Homo sapiens: one gene and its partners. The protein of the gene in region 4 purifies or fractionates together with the protein of the main gene of each other region. This does not show direct contact. Each region holds a gene or a part of one and is shown on either strand. Other genes may lie near its edges.

Region 1 (5,733 bases), on a different chromosome or scaffold from region 4:
GAAGAGACTAACGGCACCTTGATAGCTAAAGAACAATAATTGCTTCGAATTATAGTCAATTTAGGAGTTTCCACCATTGTGAAAAGGAGAAGAAACTTGAATAATTCCGAAAATGAATACTTTGAAAATATTTTCCATTTGTACCAGACTTAAATATGGGCGTGTCTCACTTGAGAATGTATAGCAATTCAAATAAAACAAAGCATACTTTAAAGGCATAAATTATGTGGACCAGAAAGAAGTCTGTAACCTTATTCTGTCCCTCTTTTGAGTCCCAGCCTGTTTCTAGAAGAACCCTAGGAGTGGTCAATTAGCTTCATCTTCCAGTATATTTCCAGAAGGGTGGAAAAGCAAGAAAAGGCCTTTCATAATACTGACTTCGAGTCATAAGTCATAGAGAGTTAGAGGTAGAAAGGCCCGAGAGAGAATTGAGGTGTATTCAAAAAGAGCAGACATTGGGTGTCTACCACGTGTCTTACACTGTTATGTGCTGAAGACACACAAAGAGATCAGATGGAGAATCACTGATCTGGTGCGAAAATGGCCTTGCAAACAAGCAGTGATTCAACAGGATGCCTGAGAGAGAGGGTGTACAGGAGGAAACATCTCATTCAGGTTGGGGAATGAGAAGACCTTTGAAAGTGCCTAGGATTTCTATAATGGAAGAAGGGAGGATGAGGGGGCCTGCGAGTGGGGCTTTAGGAAATTGCCCAGCACAGACAATAAAGCATGATTAGGTTAGGGGATGAAGTGTAGTTCCACATGGCAGAAGTGTGACCAGAAAGGTGGTTGGGGTTCAGCCTGTGAAGAAGTTTGAGCCACTGGAAGTTTTTAAGTCATAAAGGGGTGTGATGAAATCTTTGTTGACAAAGCTCACCAGTGGCAGTGAAGAGAAAGTGAATTAGATCCCAGCCAGTACAAGATGATGATCACAGATAACTATAGTCCACTCAATTTTCAGCATGCCTTTGTCTACACATCATCTTATTTTATCTTATGATGAGCATGTGAAGGGAAGATCTGATTATTCCTGGTTTCCAGTTACAAAACAGGATTAGAAATGTACATTTATATACTCAATGTCCCTCTAGTAGTTTATTCCAAAACCTGACTTTGACCCAGTTGCCTAGTTCTGAGGCTGGGGCTGTTTCCAGGTCTTCTCAGTGGAGTAATTGAATATTCTGGGCCTTCTGGTTGAGACCGCGGTTGCTTTTTTTCTTCAGCAGAATATTCCACATAAGTTCATTGGTTCTGGAGAGAAGACACTTGTTAATGGTATTACCCTTTACCATAGCCACAGAACCTCAAGAATGGCCCTCCAGAGTATGCACAGATGCTGTTCCAAAGCATGAATTAATGGATTCTCAGTAGCATGCCATAGATAAATGAAGGGTTCATCTGCCCGTTAATTGATGTTTTGGGTTTTTCATTCCTTTACCCCAAATTTACTGGGCATTATTGTGCTTATGCTTCATTTTGGACTTCAGCAGCCTCTTTTTGTCCAGTGATCTTGAGGGCCTTGATTTGTATGTCAGTCTTCAACAAATATTTACTGAGTTCTCATTTAATTTGCCAGACATGCTGTAGGCCCAGGGAATGTAACAGTGAATGTGGCAAAAATGTCTGAAGTCGTAGAGTGCACATTGTAGTTGGGGGAGAGAGGAACTAAATGACAAGCAACAGACAAAAATATATATTGTAATTTCAAGTGCTAAAAAGAAAAATAAAGCAATATGAAGGGAAAGAAGGGTGGTTCTACTATTTCAGGTAGGGTGGTTGGGAAAACACTATCTGATGGGGCTTCATTTGGGCTGAGACTCAAATGAAGTGGGGAGAGAGGCATGGGATGTTTGGGAGAAGAGATTCAGGTTGAGTGGTAGTCTGTTCTCACACTCCTAATAAAGACATACCAGAGACTGAGTAATTTATAAAGGAAAGAGGTTTAATTGAATCACAGTTCAGCATGGCTGGGGATGACTCACAATCATGGCAGAAGGCAAAGGAGGAGCAAAGGCATGTCATACATGGTGGCAGGCGCATGTTCAGGGGAACTGCCCTTTATAAAACCATCAAATCTCATGAGACTTCTTCACTATCACGAGAACAGCACAGGAAAACCCACCCCCGTGATTCAGTTACCTCCCACCGGGTCCCTCCCACGACATGCAGGGATTATGGGAGCCGCAATTCAAGATGAGATTTGGGTGGGGACACAGACAAACCATACCAAATGGGAAGCCCCCAACGTGGGGCCACTGCTGTGTCCAAGCAATAGCAAAGAGGCCAGTGTGGCCTGAGTGCAGGGTGTCATGGGGAGAGCTAACCACAGTGCTGGAGAGAAAAGCGGGTCTTGATGGTGCAGGCTTTGTGACCTTTGAGTTTTAGTCCAAGTGTCATAGGAAGCCACTGGAAGTTGTGGGCAGGGGAGTGACTTGTTGGGATTTGTGTCTCAAGCAGATCTTTCTGGCGGCCCTAAGGAGGATTGATTGTGGGGCACAAGAGTGGAGGCAAGGAGTCCCATGAAAGCTACTGCGGTGGTTCAGGACGAGAGGATGGATCAGGATGATAGTCCTGGTGAGATGCAGTTGGGTTCTGAGTATAGAGATTATGAGATTTGGATATAGAGGATGAGAGAAAAAGAATAAGATGATTCCATTGTTTTTGGCCTGAACAACTGGATGAACAAAAAGGTCGTTTACTGAGATGGTGATGTATTTTATCAAATGTACCATGGGCTATTTTTTTTTAATTTCTGTTTTTGTCGAGGTGTTGACTTGGAATAGTCTTGGCAGACTTTTCATTTAAATACACCAAAAAGGAGATGTTTTTATTTTGGGATGATTCATGACATCTGTTTGAAGCGAAGCTTTAGATGTGCTGTGTACTTTGTACTGTTACTTTTAGATCAGTCCCACAACGTTTATACTATGTGATGGAGATTAAGATATGGGAGAAACAAGATTGAAATATATTTCACTTTATTTTTAGAAATGTTTTGAATTGGCTGGTTAAAGCCCAAATATTTTTTGATGCTTCCTGGTTGTCATATTTAAAAAACTTTTTAAATTATAAAATAAACTCATGTACGTGGTTAAAACATATATCCATATTATACAAGGGTATACAATGAAGAGTAAAAGTCTTCTCCTAACTTCAGCCCTATTTCTAAGAAGGTACCACTGTCAACAGTTTCTGTGTATGCTTTGAGAAGAATTCCATTCATGTGCAAGCATTTGGCCTGATACATTTTAAAGTCATAGCTTTAAGCTAGCAGCACCACGTGTTAGGTTTCAGATTTAGTAGACTTTGTAGTCACCTTGGTAGCCCTCAAGTTAAGCGACCTGGAGTCCACTTTCTATCAACTAAGGATCTCCCTCTCCAAACCATCCCACACTGAACCACTGTGTTCATCATATAACACCCCTTCTCAAAAGCCACCAGTGGTTCTTCTCTGGGTAGAGGTAGAAATCCAAACTCATAAAGTTGGCTTTTAAGGAGCCATTCTATTCTGGCACCAGTCTCTTTTTTTCTACTCTTTTACCACTTTCCATCACAAACCCTCTACTTAAACTAAGTTTGTCCACTTCTGCTTACTGAGTCCTGACCATTTCTCCCAGATTTGGAGTGTTTTCCATCAGAACTTGGGTTCGAGGCTGTGTCTTCGTCCTGGAACACTCCACTCCACAGTAATCTCTCCCTTCTTCAAACTTGCTAAATTAGGGCTAGATACATGCACCCTATTTGAACATAATCACAAATTCTTTTATTAACTTTCTTTGTATATGTGTATTATTTGCTCAAATATATGTGACATAAATTTTACCATTTTAACCATTTTTAAGTGTACATACAGTTCAGTGGCATAAGCACATTCACATTGCTGTGCAGCCATCACCATCATCCCTCCCCATCATCATGAAAAAGATGGACGTTTTTCATCTTCCAAAACACAAGCACTGTGTCCACTAAACACTAACTCTCCATTCCCTCTCCCTCCATCTGTCTATGGACACTTGGGTTGCTTCTACTCTTGCCTATTGTGAATAATGCTGCTGTGAACATGGGTGGGCAGATATCTCCTTGAGACCTTGCTTTCACTTCTTTTGGACATATACCTAGATGTGAAATTGCTGGATCACATAGTAATTCTATTTATAATCTTTTAAGGAACCCGTCCATGCAATTTTAATATTTCCCCTTGGTATTTAACATCTCCAAAGGGAAGGGCAAAAATTTATTATCCTCATTTTGGGGGCCAAACTGAACTTGAGAAGTGTTTGTTTCAGAACACTGTCTTTGGGTGATAGTTCGTCATCAAAGTTCTTGAATTTGTTCATTTATTAGTGTGCCTGTTTTTAGATTGTAGACTTTTAGAGGACAGGCAGGTGATGTTTAATTTGCTTTGTAGAGCATGTAGCCCAAGCTCAGGTGGGGAAGGGTGTAAATATTATGCGATGTTTTATTTCAGCTAAAAAATCTCCTTGAGCTGGATGACAAGAGTCTGGGTTGCTTCCAGCTCCTTTCCTCTTGCTGTTTGCCCTTGGGTGAAGAACTTCCTCTTTCTCTGACTTTTTTTTTTTCAGGGCTTTTTGTGTGTGTGATTGTGATGGTGCCTTAACATTTATTATTATCCTTAAAATTTTCCTTGTGGATTCCTCTGTAAAACTTACATGTTGCCTTCTCTTTGTAACCTTGCCTGACAGCCCCTCTTCCTTACCAGGTCCTGGGGTAGCGCTGATTGCTTCCTCCTTTGTATTTTTACAGTACCCTTTTCACTCCTTTCTTACAGGTGGATCATCTTGTTTTGTAATTGTCAACTTGCCTTCTACACTGTTAGTTCAAGCTTCTTGCAATGGGGAACTGAGTCTCATGCTTAAAAACAAAACAAAACAAAACCTCTGCACCTAGAGCCATGTTTTATACATGGAGGGGAGTGGCTCAGAAATATTTGTTGATTAAAAAATTAGGCTGGAAACATCAGCTCATGCCTATAATCCCAGCACTTTAGGAGGCTGAGGTGGGCAGATCGCTTGAGCCCAGGAGTTTGAGACCAGCCTGGACAACATAGCAAGACCTGTCTCTACAAAAATTAAAAAGAAAAAAAAAAAAGCAGGGCATCGTGGCACGTGCCTGTAGTTCCAGCTACTCAGGAGGCTAAGGTGGGAGAATCACGTGAGCCCAGGAAAGTTGAGGCTGCAGTGAGCCATGATTGTGCCACTACATTCCAGCCTGGGTGACAGATTGAGACCCTGTCTCAAAAAAAAAAAAAAAAAATTTAAAAAATCTGACCAAGCACAGTGGCTCACACCTGTAGTCCCAGCTGTTTAGGAGGCTGAGGCCAGAGGATTGCTTGAGCCCAGGAGTTCAAGGCTGCAGTGAGCTACGATCATGCCACTGAACTCCAGCCTGGACTACAAAGTGAGACCCCATCTCAAAATAAATATATTAATTAAAAATTTAAAAAAGAATAAAGAATCATGTGGCCAGTTAGCTCAGTTGGTTAGAGTGTGGAGCTCATAAAAAATTAAAGAATGAATGTTTGAAATTACACGTAACTAAGTTCATATAATTTTAACTTGGATACAAGGCATTGTTATGCTAATAAGTTTATTATAACAGTAAGTCAACATTTATTGAGAAAGTTATGTGGTAAGCACTATGCTGAGAGTTTTCATGTGTATTTATTATTTACAATCAGACTTGGAAAAGTTAACTTACCCATGAATACCCACC
Region 2 (5,733 bases), on a different chromosome or scaffold from region 4:
GAAGTTGTCTTTCATCTGGGACTGCTGGGTAGAAAGGAGGCATAAACTGGAGCTTCCAGGACTTTCCACATGGATGGTGTTGAATGGGAGAATGTCAAGAGACGAAAAGAAAGCAGGGAGAGGGAGGCAGACACCATGTCTTGATGCCATCATTTTCGTAACTGAACGCAGCTGTGTGGAAACTGACGACCCCTAACTTCTAGTTGCATAAGCCAATAAGTTCCCTTTTTTGCTGAACTCAGCTTGAATTAAATTTCCATTATTCATCCCCTGCCAAAAAAAAAATCCTGACCAACTTAGGGGAGAACCAAATTGAATAAAAAACGATGGCTGTCTTTTGGGACCTCACAGCTTCATGGGGGACACTGACTCTTGCACACAGGCTTCTGATGTGAGGTGCTCTCCCAGTGGCAACCCTAAGGCAATCTGCTAGTGTGGTGAGGATGTGGGCTTTGGATTCAAACACCTTTGCTTGCACTCCCAGCTTCCGTACTGGCCGTGTGACCTTAGGTAGGTGACTCCATCTCTCTGAGCCTCAGCTGCCTGATCTCATGGAAAACAGAGCTAGGAGTGTTACAGCGAGATAAGGCAGAGAAAGCCCAGCACAGTGCCTGTCTGGGAGATGAAACCAAGCCTCAACCCAGGCTCTTGCCTAATGTTAGGTTGGCCTTTAAAACTGCTGCTATTCGAAAGTAATTGAGAGTGCGCCCTGGAATGTAAGGGGCTATGAGAATTCCAAATAAGGCACCTTCCTCTAAGGCACCTTCTAAGAGATCATTGGTCATTTTGGAGTAGGTGAAGGAGAGATGAATTTTCACAGGGGATGATAGAGAAGACTCCTGGGGAGGAGATGCGGTCGCAGAAGGGCCATAAGGGAGGGGATGTGGAGCTCACTTAGGGCACTGCTCAGACCCCACCTCCCACCCCCAGGAACAGAAGGACTTAGTCCTCTGGTGGCGGGAAGTGCTGACGGCTGGCAGCTCACCACTGAGGCTCTTGACTTGTGACTGCCCTTGGCTGAAGAGAGTCTCCTTGCAAAAAGCCATGTCCGGCTGGGCACAGTGGCTCATGCCTGTAATCTCAGCACTTTGGGAGGCCAAGGTGTGTGGATCACCTGAGGTCAGGAGTTCGAGACCAGCCTGACCAACATGGTGAAACCCTGTCTCTATTAAAATTACAAAAATTAGCCGGGCGTGGTGGTGGGCACCAGTAATCCCAGCTACTTGGGAGGCTGAGGCAGGAGCTCTCTTGAACCTGGGAGGCGGAGGTTGCAGTGAGCTGAGATCATGCCACTGCATTCCAGCCTGAGCGACAGAGTAAAACTGTGTCAAAATAAATAAATACAAATTAAAAAGTAAAATAAAAAGCCATGCCCCTCCCCAGGGGCAGCCCATAGCCAGTGCCATGTTGATACAGATAAAGACATGGCCCCTCACTCAACTCAGGATGACCCCAAAGGGCCATCCCAGGTTCCGAGCTCCCTGTGGAGCAGGCTGAGGCCTTGAAGTGGCTGAACCGCAGACCAGCTTCTCCCTCTGCCCAATCCTGCCTCCTACCCTTCCCTGACAAGAGCACACCCCAGGAAACTCCATCTCAGGGTCTGTGTCTAGGGAACCTAGCCAGCGACAGGTGGTCGTCAGAAGGCAGAGATGGAGCAGGGAGGCATCCTAGGTGGAAGGTGTGGCTTGCACAGGTGCCTGCAGGTGGACTCCAGAGATGGCATGGGGAGGTCCCGGAAGGGCTGACACCAGGATTCGGAGAGGCTCCAGCTTCATTTTGGAGATGAGGATGGGGAGGTGGGGAGGGGATCCTGACAGTGTCACATCTTTTGTCTCAGAAGATAAAGTAGAAGCGGGTCACATTCACAGGGGGCAGGAGAGAGCAGGAAGTGAGGCTGCCAGGAACCTGGTTAGCAGGGTGCAGGAGGGAGGAGATCACAATCAGCAGTGACCTTGGGCTTGAAGATTCCCCAGGACGGGGAGGGGCTGATGTGGACACGCATGGATGAAGAGAGGAACTGGCTGGAAGGATCAATGGAAAAGAAGGGTGAGGAACAGGCCCAGCAGAAAACCCCTGGGATTTGCTCAGAAGTCACAAACTGGCAGCCAGCTGGCCAGATACACAATAAGTGTTTTATTTGGCTCATGTGATATTTTAAAACATGAGAAAATTCGTTACACACATTTGAGAATCTGGAGACTTCACGTAAGACTCTAGATTTCCGACTTCTTCTGAAAAGTCAGAAGACCTGGTACCCTGGGCCTGTGCACCTGCCCCCACCCCCGGGGCAGAGTGGATGCAGGTTTTCTCTGCCTGTGCATCTACTCTTTGGTGGAGTTGGAAGAGACAGCTCGGGGCACTGCACCAACAGATGCCTTGGGTCTCTTCAGGCTCTAATGTCCTCTTGTTCTACACTTTCTGGGTGCCAACTACACCTCCTGGGTCAGGGTCATGGTCACAGCTAACACATAGGGTGTCTGCATGCAAAAATGCCCCTCAGGGAAGGCAAAATGCTAAGAGATGCCCCTCCTCTGGAGTGAGGTGGCCCTGCTAGGGCCAGGGAGCTGAGCGCAGGCTGGTTTCAGCCTCCACTTGCCCCATGGCCTGGTGTCTCTGTACAGTGTCCAACCCACCCGATTGTCCAGCGAAACCCTGTCCCAAGTGGCCACAACTCCCCCTGTCCCTGGAAGGTCCTCCTTCCACCCAACACTGCTCCAGGAGAGCTACTCACAGATTCCGTGGTAGATGCCTGGCTCTGGCGTGGTGACTTGGGGGACAGGGGAACTGGATGGGAGCTCTAGCTCCGGGATCTGCACATGGGTTGGAGAAGCAGAGGAAAAGGGGGTGGTTTTAGTGATACCCACACAGCTAGCTGGCTGGCTGTTTCTGCATTTACCACTGCCCACCCTATGCCCAGGTAAGTCCTTGTGTGTTTTCCTGGATTTTTCTGCCTTTGTGGAAGCTATGGGACCAGTGATATGGGCGGACCCTGACCCTCCAGGGTCTGCATCCTTGTCAGCAGCTCTCACTGGCTGGGGAGGAGCCTGATGCTAACAGCTAAGGTGTTTAAATTTCCTCCAACAGGGAAGGACTCAATAAATGCTTATGTGGTGAGCTAGAGGAAGAAAGAAAGGAAGGAAGGAAAGGAGGAGGAAGGGAAGAAGAGAAGGAAGGGAGAGAGGAAGGAAGGAAGGAAGGAGGAAAGGAAGGAGGGAAGGAGGAAAAGAAGGAAGGAGGGAGGGAGGGAGGGAAGGAAGGAAGGAAGGAAGGGGAAGTGGAAGAATTCAAACCATAGAGAGTGGCTCTTAACTTTGGCTGTTCACTGAAGCAGAATCTCTAGGGGTGGGGCCCAGACATTTTTAAAGATCCACCCAAGTGATTTCCACGGGTAGCCAGGATAAAAAATCCTGGTCTTCAGAGAGTCAACGGTGGGCCACCACACCCTTCTTGGGCCTTACATATAAACTATTTGCTCATTGTCTCTTTGCACCATAAGTGAAGGCGCTGGTCTCTCACGAGACTGAGAGAGTGATCCCCCCAGCCCCTCACAGCGCTGGGCCCATCAGAGTCCCTTACGAGCACCTTTGTCATTTGGAAAACGCTGGGCAAATGGAAGCGCCCAGGGTAGACTCCCACCTGGAGACCCCTGGGTCGAATCAGGAGCACAGGCACGGCTTGTGGCCCAAAAAAGGTTTGAACACATCTGAATTCACTGCCAGCATTTTTAAATGGAGAGGTTTTACAGAAAAATCCAGCTTTCTGGCTTCTCTTGTAAAAATCAGGAGAACTGGCAACAATGGGCTTGCCCCTCTTGGTGGCCGCTTTCCTTAGATGTGGGGAGGGGGAGGGGCACGCACTCCCCAGCTGCCTGTGCCTCCCCATGCCCTGCTCCTGCACCCCATGCTCTGCCTGGCTGCGAGGTACAATCCCCAGGGAACACCATGGGGTCCACACGACATGTTGCTGTCCTGCCTCAGTCATGACCTTCCCACAGCCCAGCCCCATCCCTTGTGGCTTGTGTTGTCCCCATTTCTCCCCTACCCTGTTTAACCATCTCCTCTTTTTCCTATTGGTCCTGACTTGAATTGACCTTGAAGGTCATCTTTCATTTTAAAAGATTTGTTTATCTGGCTAAGTGTGGCGGCTCTTGCCTGTAATCCCAGCACTTTGGGAGGCCAAGGTGGGAGAAGCGCTTGAGTCCAGGAGTTCATGACCAACCTGGGCAACATAGCAAGACCACATCTCTACAAAAAATAAAAAAAAAACTAGCCAGGCATGGTGGCATGCACTGTAGTCTCAGCTACTCAGGAGGCTGAGGTGGTAGGATTGCTTGAGCCCCGGGAGTTTGAGCTGCAATGAGCTATGATCACGCTAGTGTACTCCAGCCTGGGCGACAGTGCCAGGCCCTATCTCTAAACAAAATAAAAAAATAATAAGTTGCTTACCAATTAAAAGCATAAACTGTGGAATCACGCATTCAAGTTCTACCCTTGTTTCTCTGTCACAATGTGCCCTTGGGCAAGTCACTTGACTTCTCTGAGCATCAGTTTCCGAAATGGCAATGTTAATAGTCTCTACTCAGAGGGTTGTCATGAGGGTGAAACAAGAACACTGTGTACCCTGCTTGGATCATGATATGTGTTCATGAAACCATGGCTGTGATGATCATTATTTTAACTGTAACTCTGCCTATGAAAAGCATTCCTAGTCCTTCCATCAAAAACAACAGTGAATGATCAAAACGCAACCCCAAGCAAAAACTCCCCCCAGACTGCCAACCTCTGAATTGCAGAGATGACACAGAGCTCATTTCTCCTGGCTTTGATTAGAATTTGAATACTTTCTTTACTTCGGTTAAAAAAAAATAAAAAAATAAAAATAATTAGAGAATGAAATATGACATAGAGGACAAAAAAACAAAGTAGAAAGATGGGAAATGTCAACACAGTGGCACCAGCAGCTTAAAGGATATCCATCTTAATTCTCCCTGCTCTACTCTGAGTTAGGGGAAGAAACCTATCTGGGGGTCCCCCCACAGCCCCCCAGCTCCAGTCCTACCCGTTCATCAGCCCCCAAGCCAGCCTGGGTGAAGGGCCGCTCATCCCCCTCGCCGTCGGCCGTGCTGGGCCTCCTCATTGCCTCTTCATCCTGCAGGCTGTCCAGGCTCCCCACATCCAGGTCAAACATCTCATCAGAATAGAATATGGCCTCGAGAATGTCATCATCGGTTGTGAATAAGATCGTGTCTCCAAAGTGCTCTGGGGCTAATGGGTTATCAAGATGACAGAAAGGTCAACTCACTTCACATCCCAGAGATTTGTAGATCAAGAGCCTAAACCCATCCACTTCTGTGCTGTACAACCCCACACCCTTAACTGGTATTGATTAGTGTGAGCCTTATTAGTCTTCACAGATTTGCAAATGGAATGCACGGACCATAAGCATCACATGGATCTAAGGAAGGGATCTAATTTCATGAGAATCACTGTGATATGTCATCAGGCAAGTGACATTTCTTTGGGGTGGGCAAGGCACTATGCAAGACGCTGTTGGTACCCCACCCAGATCTTGGTGGATCCTTTTCTCAGAGTGCCTTGCCTGGAAGGGTGTGGGAGTTACAGCTCCAACCCGGCAAGCCTTGGTTCCAATGACTGCCTGGTAGGTGGGGTTCTAACGCCCTGCTCCTTCACCTTCAGGCAGGAAAGACCTGAAATTTATGTTCCAGACCTCCCT
Region 3 (5,733 bases), on a different chromosome or scaffold from region 4:
CCCCTCAGAGTGGACCCAGCCGCACCCTCCAGAGTCACTGTCCCCTCTCAGCCCTCAGCTCAGACCACCTGCCACATCTCTGCACATCTCTGTCTCACAGGCACCTCCAACTCAACCTGTTGCACAGATCTCCTCCCCTGCCACTGCCCTCCCACTCTCTGCCAACAGTCGTCCTAGTCCTTTGATCCCAGCGCCCACCCAGGCCAGCACAGGTGGGTGCCCGGCAAGCACTTGCTGGACTGAATGAAGTCCAGTCCCCCATGGAGGGGCCCCAGCCATGAAAGGAAACAATCGTAGAATCAAAGTCATTCCCTTTCCATCTGAGAAGGCGGGAAGTGCATGGAACAGGAAGACAGGAGGCCTAGGCCAAAAGCCCTACCACTGGGGCGGCTGGCCTTTCTGATCTTCAGTTTCCTCACTTGACACATGAGGATCATAAATCTTGCCCTGTTTCTCTTGACAGCTAAGTATGGGGAACCAAGGAAATGTTACTAAGACAACTTGGTGGGGAGGGAGGTAGGTGTGTGTGTGTGTGTGTGTGTGTGTGTGTGTGTATAAATATATATATATTATAAATATAAATAACATCTATTTATTTATTTTTTTGAGACGGAGTTTCACTCTTGTTGCCCAGGCTGGAGTACAGTGGTGCGATCTTGGCTCACTCTGCAACCTCTGCCTCCTGGGTTCAAGCAATTCTCTTATTTCAGCCTCCCGAGTAGCTGGGATTACAGGCGCCCACCACCACGCCTGGCTAATTTTTTGTATTTTTAGTAGAGACGGGGTTTCACCACGTTGGCCAGGCTGGTTTTGAACTCCTGGCCTCAAGCAATCCACCCATCTCGGCCTCCCAAAGTGCTAGGATTACAGGCGTGAGCCACCGCGCCCGGCCAGGAGGGACACATATTAAACAGTTCTTCTGCACCAGGCTTCATGCTAAGGCTTTATAAACATCAGGTACAACTTATACCTATTTTGCAGATAAAGAGACTGAGGCACAGAGAGGCAAAGTGGACCCAAAGCTACATGCTAGGCAGTGTGGAGCCGGGATTTTAACTTGGGTCTTAAATGCGCCATTCCACTACACCGGGGTGGGACAGCCCACACTATGTGCTGGGGGCCAAGAGGGCTAGCTGGATTCTGTCCCAGTTCTACCAGAGGTCTAACTGCATGACCTTGGGAGAGTCACGGCCCCTCTCTGTCAGCATAAGTAATGTGAATTTTCCAAGCCAAAGAGAATTTCTGCCATGGAGGGACGCTGCCAAACTGGTGCACACACTTCTCCTATGGCACATGCGTTCATGACGCCTCTGACCATCAGCCATAGGTGCTGCCAGTCGAGGCCCAGGCTGCTGCTGGGGGTGAGCATGGGGGGCTTCATGTCCTGAACATGGGAACTTCTGCCAGGCAAGCAGGGGGTCCTGGAGGCTGGGAAGTCAGCCACGCGGCACAGGGATGGAGCGGGAAATGGCCCTCCATGGAAGCTTGTCCCGCCCACAGGTGGCAGGGATCCAAGGTGGGCTGTCTCACAGAGAGAGTAGGCCCTCCAGGCTGGCCTGCCTGCCGCTGCTGCCAAGTTGTGTAACTTGGGTGGGTGGCAGACACAGACCGAAGCACTTGGCAAGGTCAGCTGCTCTTCCTCCCAGCAAAGCCCTTAGCTCCTCTGCTGCAGATGACTGCTTCAGCCCATGGATGAGTGAGGTTTGTTCACAATGCAGTTGGTCCGCCCAGTTCTTTTTCAATGTTTTATTTTCCTCCTGTAGCCAGTGTTCACAGCCCCTAGGATCCCTTTACAGTTTCTGAGCACAAGACTCCAACTTGCCCGCGTGATTTCACTCTCTACAGCCAGCGGCCGCACCTTTTGTCAGAGGCCTGCCCGGGCTGCTGGAAACTGCTTTGGCTGTGAGTGCTGAGGGCTGGCAGTGCCTTGAACCAATGACTGACAGGTAAGGGGATATAAACATTCCAACTCCCTTGCCCTGACTGGGACAACTCCAAGGTGTGGCGCACACTATCCTCAGATCCCATAGGGCTGAGGCAAACAGCCATCCACAGGACACCCTCCAATGTCCAACCATTGCTTGGCTTCCTGCCTTTCCCTGTCCCTCTCCCCAGTCCCCTTACCAGATTTTCCTGGGAATGCATCCCCAAAACATCCCTTTCATGCAAATCTTTGTCTCAGGTTCTGCTCAGGAAGAACCCAAACTAAGAGAGTTGCCAACAAAATTTGTATAAAAATCCAGATTTCCATTTCTCATAATGCTATAGATCTAGCAACCCTGGGCCCATTCCCACTTGACAAAAATTAGCTGGAGCTGCATAGAGGCCACCCAATATAACGGAGATGTTCTCTAGTTCTTCTCATCCACCACACTGTCTACTGTCCCCCAACTGGCCCTTTTCACCCATCCCTATTCCCTGCCTGTCCCCAACAAGTTTATGGGTTTACAAACCCTACAACATAACGCAGTGGTTAATAATGTGGGCTCTAGAGGTGATCGGCTTAAGTTCACATTCCAGGTTCACAAATTACTAATCATGCAACCTTGTATAAGTCACTTAATATTTCTGTCTGTTTCTTCAGGTGAAAAATGAGTATATACATGTACCTATATGGTTCCCTCTATAGCTGTTACACACTTCATTGAGATACTGCATGTAAAGTATCCAGCACATGATAAGAGGTCAAGAACTTACTAGTATTTGTCCTCTTGGAGCAGGTGTGCCTGCCACAATCTGACAGCCTATGTTCAATTATCTGAGGTTCCCTGCCAGTTCCTCACTCCCTCTGTGGGGAGTGGCCTTTCCCCCAAGAGGTTTGCACTGACCACTTACCTCTTCCCACTGGTGAATATATCGAATGAGGCGGGAGAGGCGTAACAGGCGTAAGAGGCTGAGGATCTTCGTGAAGCGGACAATGCGCAGGGCCCGGGCAGTCTTGTAGACCTCCGAGTCGATGCGTGTCTCCACAATGAGGAAGATGTAGTCCACGGGGATGGAGGAAATGAAATCTACCATGAACCAGCTTTTCAGGTACTTCATTTTAATCCGCTGCGGGTCCAGGATGATCTCTGTGTTGTCCTCCACCACGATCCCTGTGCGGAAGTTGAGGACCAAGTCGATGAGGAAGAATGTGTCTGACACCACATTGAAGACAATCCAGGGTGTGGTGTTCTCATCCTTGAAGAAGGTGATGCCCACAGGAATGATAATCAGGTTTCCCACCATCAGCAGCAGCATGGTCAGGTCCCAGTAAAATCTGCCCAGAGACACAGGGGTCAGTCGCCAGGAAGAGAGAGAGGACAAGTTACAGACTAAGGGAGGAAGATCTGAGGGACAGCATCTGGGACAGAGAAGTCTTGGGAGGTTCTGAGACAGGAAGACAGGCACATGGGTACCAGGGCAAGATGTGGAGATTGGCACAGGGAATGACACAATAAGAGGCTCTTCATTCACTAAGGATACCCTCCGTGCTGCCCTTCTGTGAGTTTCCCCGAGCCCCAACAACAAGCTTCCTCCTCCCATCCCCAGCCCGCAGTAAGAGTCAGGCTGAAAAGCAAATCAGTGACACTCAGAGAGAAGCAAGAGGCTGTTTTAGCAAAAGGAGCAGCTCACCCCACACCACCCCAGGCTCAGGCTAGGCTGCCCCATCCTCCCTGAGGGTCAGCTGTGGCTTGAGATGGGCTGTCAGGGAGACATTCCACAGACCATGACCAAAGAGCAGGGGAGGTACAGACATGACTCAGGTGCCTGGAAGGCAGGAGGCCCAGGCTCCGGCCCCAGCTTTGTCATCAACATGCTATGTGACATCCGGAAGGGCCTCCCTATTCTGGGCCTCAGTTTCCTCACTGTGTAATGAGTCCTATCATTCTGATCTGGCCCTCTCCCAAACTGGTTCTCTGGCATCCACCTTTAGTCCATCCCCTATAATCAGAAAATGTCTGACCATCTCCTTCCCTCAGAGGTTTGCATCCTAACATGGGGGTGTGGAGGGGGAGAGATAGCTTCAAAACAAGAATAATTAATGGGGGGATTTCAGGCACCAGTGAGATACCACTCAATGTGATAGAAAGAGACCAGCCCAGGGCTTCCAGAATCATTTCTCCTAAGGCCTCAGGCACCTTCAAGTCGTTTGTAGAGGGAGCCTCAGGGCAAAGCCTTGGAGAAGTTGAGCAGCATGAGGAGGAGGCACAACACCAACTCACAGGTCTGTGGTGGGTTTCTCCCAACTCACCAAGCAGGGGGCCTTCTGGAGTGTGGAAACAACACAGGTGGCCAAGACCCCAATCCAGAAGGCATGGCCAGTTATTCCCAGGGACCCTGCCCAAGCACCAGCCATCCCAGGGCTGGCCCCAAGACCAAAAACTTGCACTGCAGAGCTGTTTCCCTCTGCTATTAATTTAGACATTTACACAATAACAGATAAAGGTATTAAGTGAGGCAGAAATAAGCATGTCTTCTCCCAGGAGAAATAACCTTTCCACCATCTTTGATTCTTTACTGCAGGGAAGCCAGGAGGAAGGAAGTGGGAAAGAAAGAGATAAGCTTTCCTCGAGTCTTCAGAGGGTCTCACTGTAAACCAAAGTGCCCCTGCCTGCAGAGTTCCAGGTTGCAAAGAAATTACTTCATAGCAAATTGTTTGTTTGTTTGCCAGACTCAAAATGGGGCTGTGATTCAAGGAGAGGGTAGGGCCTGTTTTGCTGAAGGTGGGTGAGATGGCTGTCCTACATCACACTGTGTGGCAAAGGGCAGTTTCCAGAGAGTCAGCTTTCTGCAGCTCCTTTGAAAGCCAAGCTCTTCAGGGCCTCAAGACAGGGCCTTATGGGGGATAAGGCCGGATGCCAAGAGGCCAACTTCAGCTCCTCTCTACCCCATGACCCACCACTCCTTCCTGTGGCCCCAGTACCCATATGCCAGCTGAGAGAACCCAACTAAGGCCTGAGGACCCATCCTCAGCTTCACACTTTACTACAAAGAATGCAGCACACCTGCTAATGAGTCATGGGCCCCAGGAGGATGGTTTCAGCATCTATGGGGTGCCCTAGAGCCGTGCATGCTCTACCCAGCCACATAGACCTCACTCAAAGACAGCTGTGTACACTCATTAGATGCCACACGCAGGTATCCCCATTCACACACACAGTGCACAAACACCCCTCTATACACTCTGCTGTCATCCCTCTTCATTTAATCTCCTGGGAAAAACAAAAGAAAACAAATTTTTTAACTGTGCATAGAAAGGCCACTGAGGGCTATGTGGCCCTCTGTACATAAAGCTAATAATACACCCAGGCTGGAGGAGTTTCTAAAATTAACAGAGCGGGTGCAAGGCGGCTGGGAATGCTGACTCGGGCGGGCCTGCCACTCCAACGGGTTTCTACACTCTCCCCAGCTCTAGTTCCCTCAATTACAGTCCAAATTTGAGAGAGTAATTAACAGGAGAATGTTTGCATTTTGTGGTCTTCATAAAACCAAATTGCATAAGGCAAAAACACCCATTTCCTCGCACTCTGACTAATGGTTTCAATCTTGAGCTTCCAGATGCTCAGGGATATTTCCAGCACTCGATCTGGGCTGGGGTCGGGATCCTGGATCATTCTTTCCCACAAACCACTACCCTGGAACATCACAGAGCTGCTGGAGAGACAGTATAATATGGTGGGAGGAGGGATGGGCCTGAAGTCAGGGTTCGATTCCTGCTCCATGGTTTACTAGCAAGTCACTTTACCATGC
Region 4 (5,733 bases):
CCTGGGCGGGGGCTCCTGGCCCTCTCACTGGGCAAGGCATCCTCCTCTGGGTGCCACAGAGCCCTGAGTGCGTCCTCCCCACCCCCCTGAGTCACGATCAGAGTTCTCCACCACCCATCAGCCTGCCCACCTGGGCGGGGGGGTCCTGGCAGCAGCTCCACCGCCTATACATCCCTTAGCCTGGCGCAGGCCTGGCATGTAGGAGGCACCCGGGAAGTGCAGCTGCAGTGAGTGGATGAACATCTTTAGCCCTGGTGCTACTCTCAGTGGCAGCCCCACGCCAGCCTAGAAATAAGGGCTTGGAAGAAGCCCTCCGGGCAGCCAAGGCTGCTGGGGGACTGGGCTGCGAAGTGGGCAGGGCTGGGCCGGGCAGGGCTGGGCTGGGCAGGGCTGGGCAGGACTGGACTTGGAAGGGATGGGCTGGGCTGGGCAGGGCAGGGCTAAGCTGGGCAAGGCTGGGCTTGGCAGGGCTGGACTGGGAAGGTCTGGGCTGGGCTGGGCAGGGCAGGGCTGGGCAAGGCAGGGCTGGGCAGTGCAGGGCTGGGCTGGGAAGGCCTGGGCTGGGCAGGGCAGGGCAGGGCTGGGTTGGGCAGGGCTGGGCAGGGCTGGGTTGGGCAGGGCAGGGCTGGGCAGGGCTAGGCTGGGCTGGGCAGGGCTGGGCAGGGCTGGGCAGGACTGAGCAGGACTGGGCTTGGCAGGGATGGACTGGGCAGGGCAGGGCTGGGGTTTAAGCCTGGAACCTCTGGCTTGGCCTCTGCCCATCTGCTTCCCACTGGAGCTTGCGTTTAGCTCCAGGACCAGGAAGTTCCCACCCCAAGAGCCCTGCTGGGTAGGATGGAGTCCCCAGGAGGGAGCTAGGGAGGGGCCGCCAGGCGCTGTCTCACCTGGGGCTGCTGGGCAGGACCGGAGCCCCCAGGAGGGCGCTAGGGAGGGGCCGCCGGGCACTGTCTCATCTGGGGCAAGGTGGAGGCAGGGGACCTCTTGCACTCATCTGAGAAGCGACTCCACGCAGGGCCTTTGAGGAGGAGCAGAAGCTCAGAAAGCAGGAGATCATCAGTCGGATTCTGAAAGAGGAGGCTGAGGAGGAAAAGAGGAAGAAACAGCATCCCCCCACCAGTGCCAGGCACCGGCTGACCCTGAGGGACAAGACCTGGAACTACATTTCTGACTTTTGCAAGAAGACCACAGTCCCAACCAACACGTACACACTGGTGAGCAAAACGCCTTCCTGTAGACAGAAGCCGCACACCTGTGGAGGGCAGGTGGGGCCTCAGGGCTCAGGTGTGGTGAGACATCCTCTGAGGACCTCAGCACCATGGCCACCTGCAGGGGGTTGCTGAGCCCGCTGAGTGGCCGCCACTCAGCTCAAGGACAAGGGGACAAGACACACTACGGACCCACCACATGAGAGAGGCCCATGGCCGCAGCATCCCCAGCAAGGGTCCAGTGTCCTCCTGGTCTCGGTGTGCCCACCAGACCCTGCGTCACCCCCAGCAGTGTTGCTGCCCACCAGGCTGGGACCACCTTGCCTGGCCCTGTAGAGCTGGGTCAGCCGCCTGCCAGGGAGATGTGCACAGCCGTTCAGACCACATGCCTGGGATCACCCTGCTACAAAGCACTCCTGATAGCACCTAGAGGACAGCTTTCCTATCACTCATTCATTCACTCACTCATCCTTTATTCGTTCACTCACTCATTCTTTCTTCATTCATTCACTCACTCATTCTTCATTCATTCACTCATTCATTCACTCATTCACTCTTTACTCATTCACTCATTCATTCACTCACTCACTGATACACTTATTCATTCACTCATTCACTCATTCATTCACTCATTCGCTCACTCATTCACTCATTCATTCTTTACTCATTCACTCATTCACTCACTCACTGATTCACTCATTCATTCATTCACTCACACATTCACTTATTCACTCACTTACTCATTCACTCACTCACTCACATCCAGGGCCTGCTTGGTGTCCACTGCTGCTGCAGGCAACTGGCTTCAGTTGGGGGAATGTATTTCTAGTTTACCTTTCCCTAAAGGTGTGGGGTAGGGACGATGGTCCTCTCCTGAGTCTGGCACAGTGCTGCAGTCTCTGCCCTTGTGTACCCCAAAACCTGAAGGTCAAGGTCACTGCTGCAACCGATGCCCTGCTGGGAAAGAGAAAGCCTTGGGCTGCCTCAGCTTTGGCCTCCACAGGGTCTCTGCGGTGCCCTTCAGGGCACCAGAGAAGGTCCTTTCCTGCTACCCAGGCTCCCAGTGCCTGGGCTGAGCCTTTGCCCCATCCACCCCTCACTGCCCGTCTCACGCCGGGGCCTTTGCACCCGCCGATCCCTCCGCCAGGAGCACCCTGCTGCGCCTCCTTGCTCCAGAGAAGCCTCCCCTGCCCCCACCCCCACCCGTGAGCTGCTCCCTGCGATTTTCTGTGGCACCACCTGTGGCACTATACAGGTCACAGTAACAGCAATGCGCTGGCCCCGTCCAGACTTCCTGTCTGTCGCTCCATAGGACGGTCCCCAGGAAGAAGAACCCTGTCTACCCGGCCCAGTTCCCCCTTCTCCAGCAGGCCTGGGACAGAGCCAGAGCAGATAGGCAAGGCTCCGTCCCCAAACTCATTCTGAGGAAACCACCACAGCCATCCTCCTGGGGTCAGCCTGGGGCTTTTCCCGGGCATGGCTTATATCCACAGAAATGAGAACTGCGCCAGGCGCGGTGGCTCACACCTGTAATCCCAGTACTTTGGGAGGCTAGGGTGAGTGGATCATGAGATCAAGAGTTCGAGACCAGCCTGGCCAACATAGTGAAACCCCATCTCTACTAAAAATACAAAAAATTAGCTGGGTGTGGTGGCGGGCGCCTGCAATCCCAGCTACTCGGGAGGCTGAGGCAGGAGAATCATGTGAACCCGGGAGATAGAAGTTGCAGTGAGCTGAGATCGCGCTGCTACACTCTAGCCCAGGTGACAGTGCAAGACTGCGTCTCAAAAAAAAAAAAAAAAATGAGAACAGATGAGTGCCTGAGGATCGGCGCCAAGGATGCCAGTCCGTGAATTAGAACATTTTCCTATCAAAGGAAATATTTTGCAGACTCTTCTGAGCATTGTAGAAAAATATTTAATAATGTATTAAAATACTTATATTTCAAGTAGAAAAAGTTACAAAACCGTGTGCACCGCTATCTCCATGCAGAGTACGTGAGGCAGAAGAACGGGGGCAGGCAGCGGGCCATACCGGCGGGGGCTGGGCCGAGTTTCTCTTCCCTGTTCTCTGTCATGAGCGTGTCTTTGCGATGTTCCTCTCCCCGACTGCAGGACTACGAGGCTGCTGCAGGCCCCGGGCCCTCTCGGTTGCTGGAAGTCGTTTCCAGTGAGCTTATCCAGGGGGACCCCGGGGCCAGCTCAGAGGAGGAAACGTTAGCTGAGCCCGAGATCTCTGGGCTTTGGAATGAAGACTACAAGCCATACCAGGTATCAGCTCCTGCTCCTTTAGACGCTTGCAGACGGACCCCGGCCCTCTGTCGCCGGCTCGCCACCTCCCACGCCTGCCCCGGCCACACCAGCTGCTCTGAGGCTTCTCCTGGCTGTGCCTGCCATCTCCCGCCACCCTCTCCTGTGTGTGGACGCCCCCCGCCTCCCTCTCCACACTCATGCCTTTCCCTCTTCGCGGAGCCTGGAGGGCACCACGCGTGCTCGACGACCCCAAGCTCCCCCTGACAGACAGCTCGGTCACCATGGTGTAACGGGGAGGGACGGTGGGGCTCCAAAGCTGAAAGGCTGAGGGAATGACTCTGAGCTACTCCGTGTACTATTGGAGAAGCATCTTTCTAGAAGAAGCGTGCAAACTTTCTTTGACGGCCTTTTGTAAGAAACATGCCCCATCTGGCGCTGGGGTCCTTCTGCCTCTGAAAGAGCAGTTACAGCAAGACACGGTCTCTGCAGCAGTGTGGCTCAGGCTGTGGCCCTGTCCCACGTGGGAGGGCAATGCCCGCCGCCCGGTTTCTGTAAGCATTGGCCACCTCTACTGTCAGGGCAAAAGCCACCTGGTTCTGCTGGTTCTGGGGATGCCGGGCTGACCAGGGTGGTGAACAAGACAGGCCAGGCAGAGCCACCACCTGCCCACTGGGGACACCCAAGGGAGAAGGCTGCCTCTGGACAAGAGGAGGGTGCCAAGTGCCCCCCCCACCCCGGGAAGCCAGGGAGGAGGCTGCCCGGCTGCCGGGCATGGGCACCAGCAGGGACAGCCCACAGCCCAGAGCCAGGACCCACGCAGAGTCCAAGCAGCTTCTGAAGGGACAGTTCAGGACTCCAGTTCTGATCTTCCTGGTTGCTGGTGTTGGCCAGGGAAGCGGCTTTTCATCTGAGAAAGCCCAGTGTGTGCTGACACTGCCCGCTCGAGAAAACTGCTTCCTGCAGAACCTTTCAAAACCTTCCTCTTGTCCTGATTTAACAATCTGGAAAGTTCCCCCTCCACATCATTTCCCAGAAATCCACCTGAATCTGGAGCTGTCTGCTCTTGTTTCCTGGTTTCCTCTTTTTTGGAAGTGAGGGGTCCCTGCCTTGTCAATGGAGCAGAAAGTCAGTCGGTCCCCAGGGCCTTTCTGAGCAACTCAGAGCAACTCCCCGGGCCATGGGGCTCTTCCCAGCTCCAGCGCTGGTGGCAGCCGGTGGGGCTGGGCTGTCCGTGCTCTGCTAACCGCTACCCTCGCCTCCGAGCTGCCACCGGCGCCGCCCAGGTGGAGCCGCTAACAGCCCCAGCCTCTGTCTCTGTGACCCCCAGGTGCCCAAGGAGGACGTGGACCGAAAGCCCGTGGGCGGGACAAAGATGGACAAGGACATCCTGGAGCGCACGGTGGAGCGGCTGCGGAGCAGGGTGGTCCACAAGCAGGTGGTGTGGGGGCGTGAGTTCCAAGGACGCCCCTTCAACAGCAAACCGGAGCTCCTCCACTTCCAGGTGAGCCCGCAGCTGGGCCAGGAACGGGACGGGCAGCAGCACAGGACAGCAGGGGAGCCCTGCCGCAGCCCAACCCCTGACACCTTTTGCTTTTTTTTGAGATGGAGTCTCACTCTGTCGCCCAGGCTGGAGTGCAACGGCATAATCTCAGGTCACTGCAACCTCCGCCTCCTGGGTTCAAGCGATTCTCCTGCCTCAGCCTCCCGAGTAGCAGGGATTACAGGCGCCTGCCACCACGCCTGGCTAATTTTTGTATTTTTAGTAGAGACGGGGTTTCACCATGTAGGCCAGGCTGGTCTCGAACTCCTGACCTCAGGCGATCTGCCCGCCTCAGCCTCCCAAAGTGCTGGGATTGCAGGCATGAGCCACTGCGCCTGGCCTGCCTTTCGCTTTTTAACGCTGGAAAACCCGGGGGCTTCCTCAGGAGGCACAGGCCCAAGTGTGGACCTTCTCTTCCAGGAGGTGGAGGGAGAGGGCCCCATCCCCATGGAGGGCTGGACGCCAGTCTGAGCAATGGGGGTGCCGTGGCCCCGAAAGCCCTGTGCCACTTGGGGCAGTGGGGGTCCCCTGAACCTCGGGACAGGGATGTAGCAGGGACAGGGTGGGAACATGTGAGGCTGAGGTTGGTGCCTGGACGCCTCTGCCAAACTCTGCAAGACAGAGCAGGCTGTGGGCTCCTGTATTTGACCCCAGCTCAAGTCCATCCATGGAGTCAGGGACCCACCTTGGAACCCACAGTGTCTGAGCCTTTTCTCTTACTCCCACCTGCGGGCCC

The links.
Region 1: the proteins of CFAP74 (region 4) and SPTB purify together in Homo sapiens (co-immunoprecipitation; one large-scale study listed by IntAct). This does not show direct contact.
Region 2: the proteins of CFAP74 (region 4) and KATNIP purify together in Homo sapiens (tandem affinity purification; one large-scale study listed by IntAct). This does not show direct contact.
Region 3: the proteins of CFAP74 (region 4) and HCN4 purify together in Homo sapiens (co-immunoprecipitation; one large-scale study listed by IntAct). This does not show direct contact.

Annotation. Positions count from the first base shown.
Region 1 is NC_000014.9:64,869,163-64,874,895, reverse strand, and holds part of SPTB (spectrin beta chain, erythrocytic), read left to right. Parts: intron 1-2,217; exon of another isoform or gene 2,218-2,574; intron 2,575-5,733.
Region 2 is NC_000016.10:27,751,250-27,756,982, reverse strand, and holds part of KATNIP (katanin-interacting protein), read right to left. Parts: intron 5,265-5,733; coding exon 5,059-5,264; intron 2,811-5,058; coding exon 2,732-2,810; intron 1-2,731. UniProt on the Homo sapiens protein: May influence the stability of microtubules (MT), possibly through interaction with the MT-severing katanin complex.
Region 3 is NC_000015.10:73,340,550-73,346,282, forward strand, and holds part of HCN4 (potassium/sodium hyperpolarization-activated cyclic nucleotide-gated channel 4), read right to left. Parts: intron 4,636-5,733; exon of another isoform or gene 4,507-4,635; intron 3,260-4,506; coding exon 2,836-3,259; exon of another isoform or gene 2,721-2,835; intron 1,947-2,720; exon of another isoform or gene 1,764-1,946; intron 517-1,763; exon of another isoform or gene 464-516; intron 1-463. UniProt on the Homo sapiens protein: Hyperpolarization-activated ion channel that are permeable to Na(+) and K(+) ions with very slow activation and inactivation. Exhibits higher selectivity for K(+) over Na(+) ions.
Region 4 is NC_000001.11:1,964,113-1,969,845, reverse strand, and holds part of CFAP74 (cilia- and flagella-associated protein 74), read left to right. Parts: intron 1-1,012; coding exon 1,013-1,211; intron 1,212-3,319; coding exon 3,320-3,475; intron 3,476-4,784; coding exon 4,785-4,958; intron 4,959-5,733. UniProt on the Homo sapiens protein: As part of the central apparatus of the cilium axoneme may play a role in cilium movement. May play an important role in sperm architecture and function.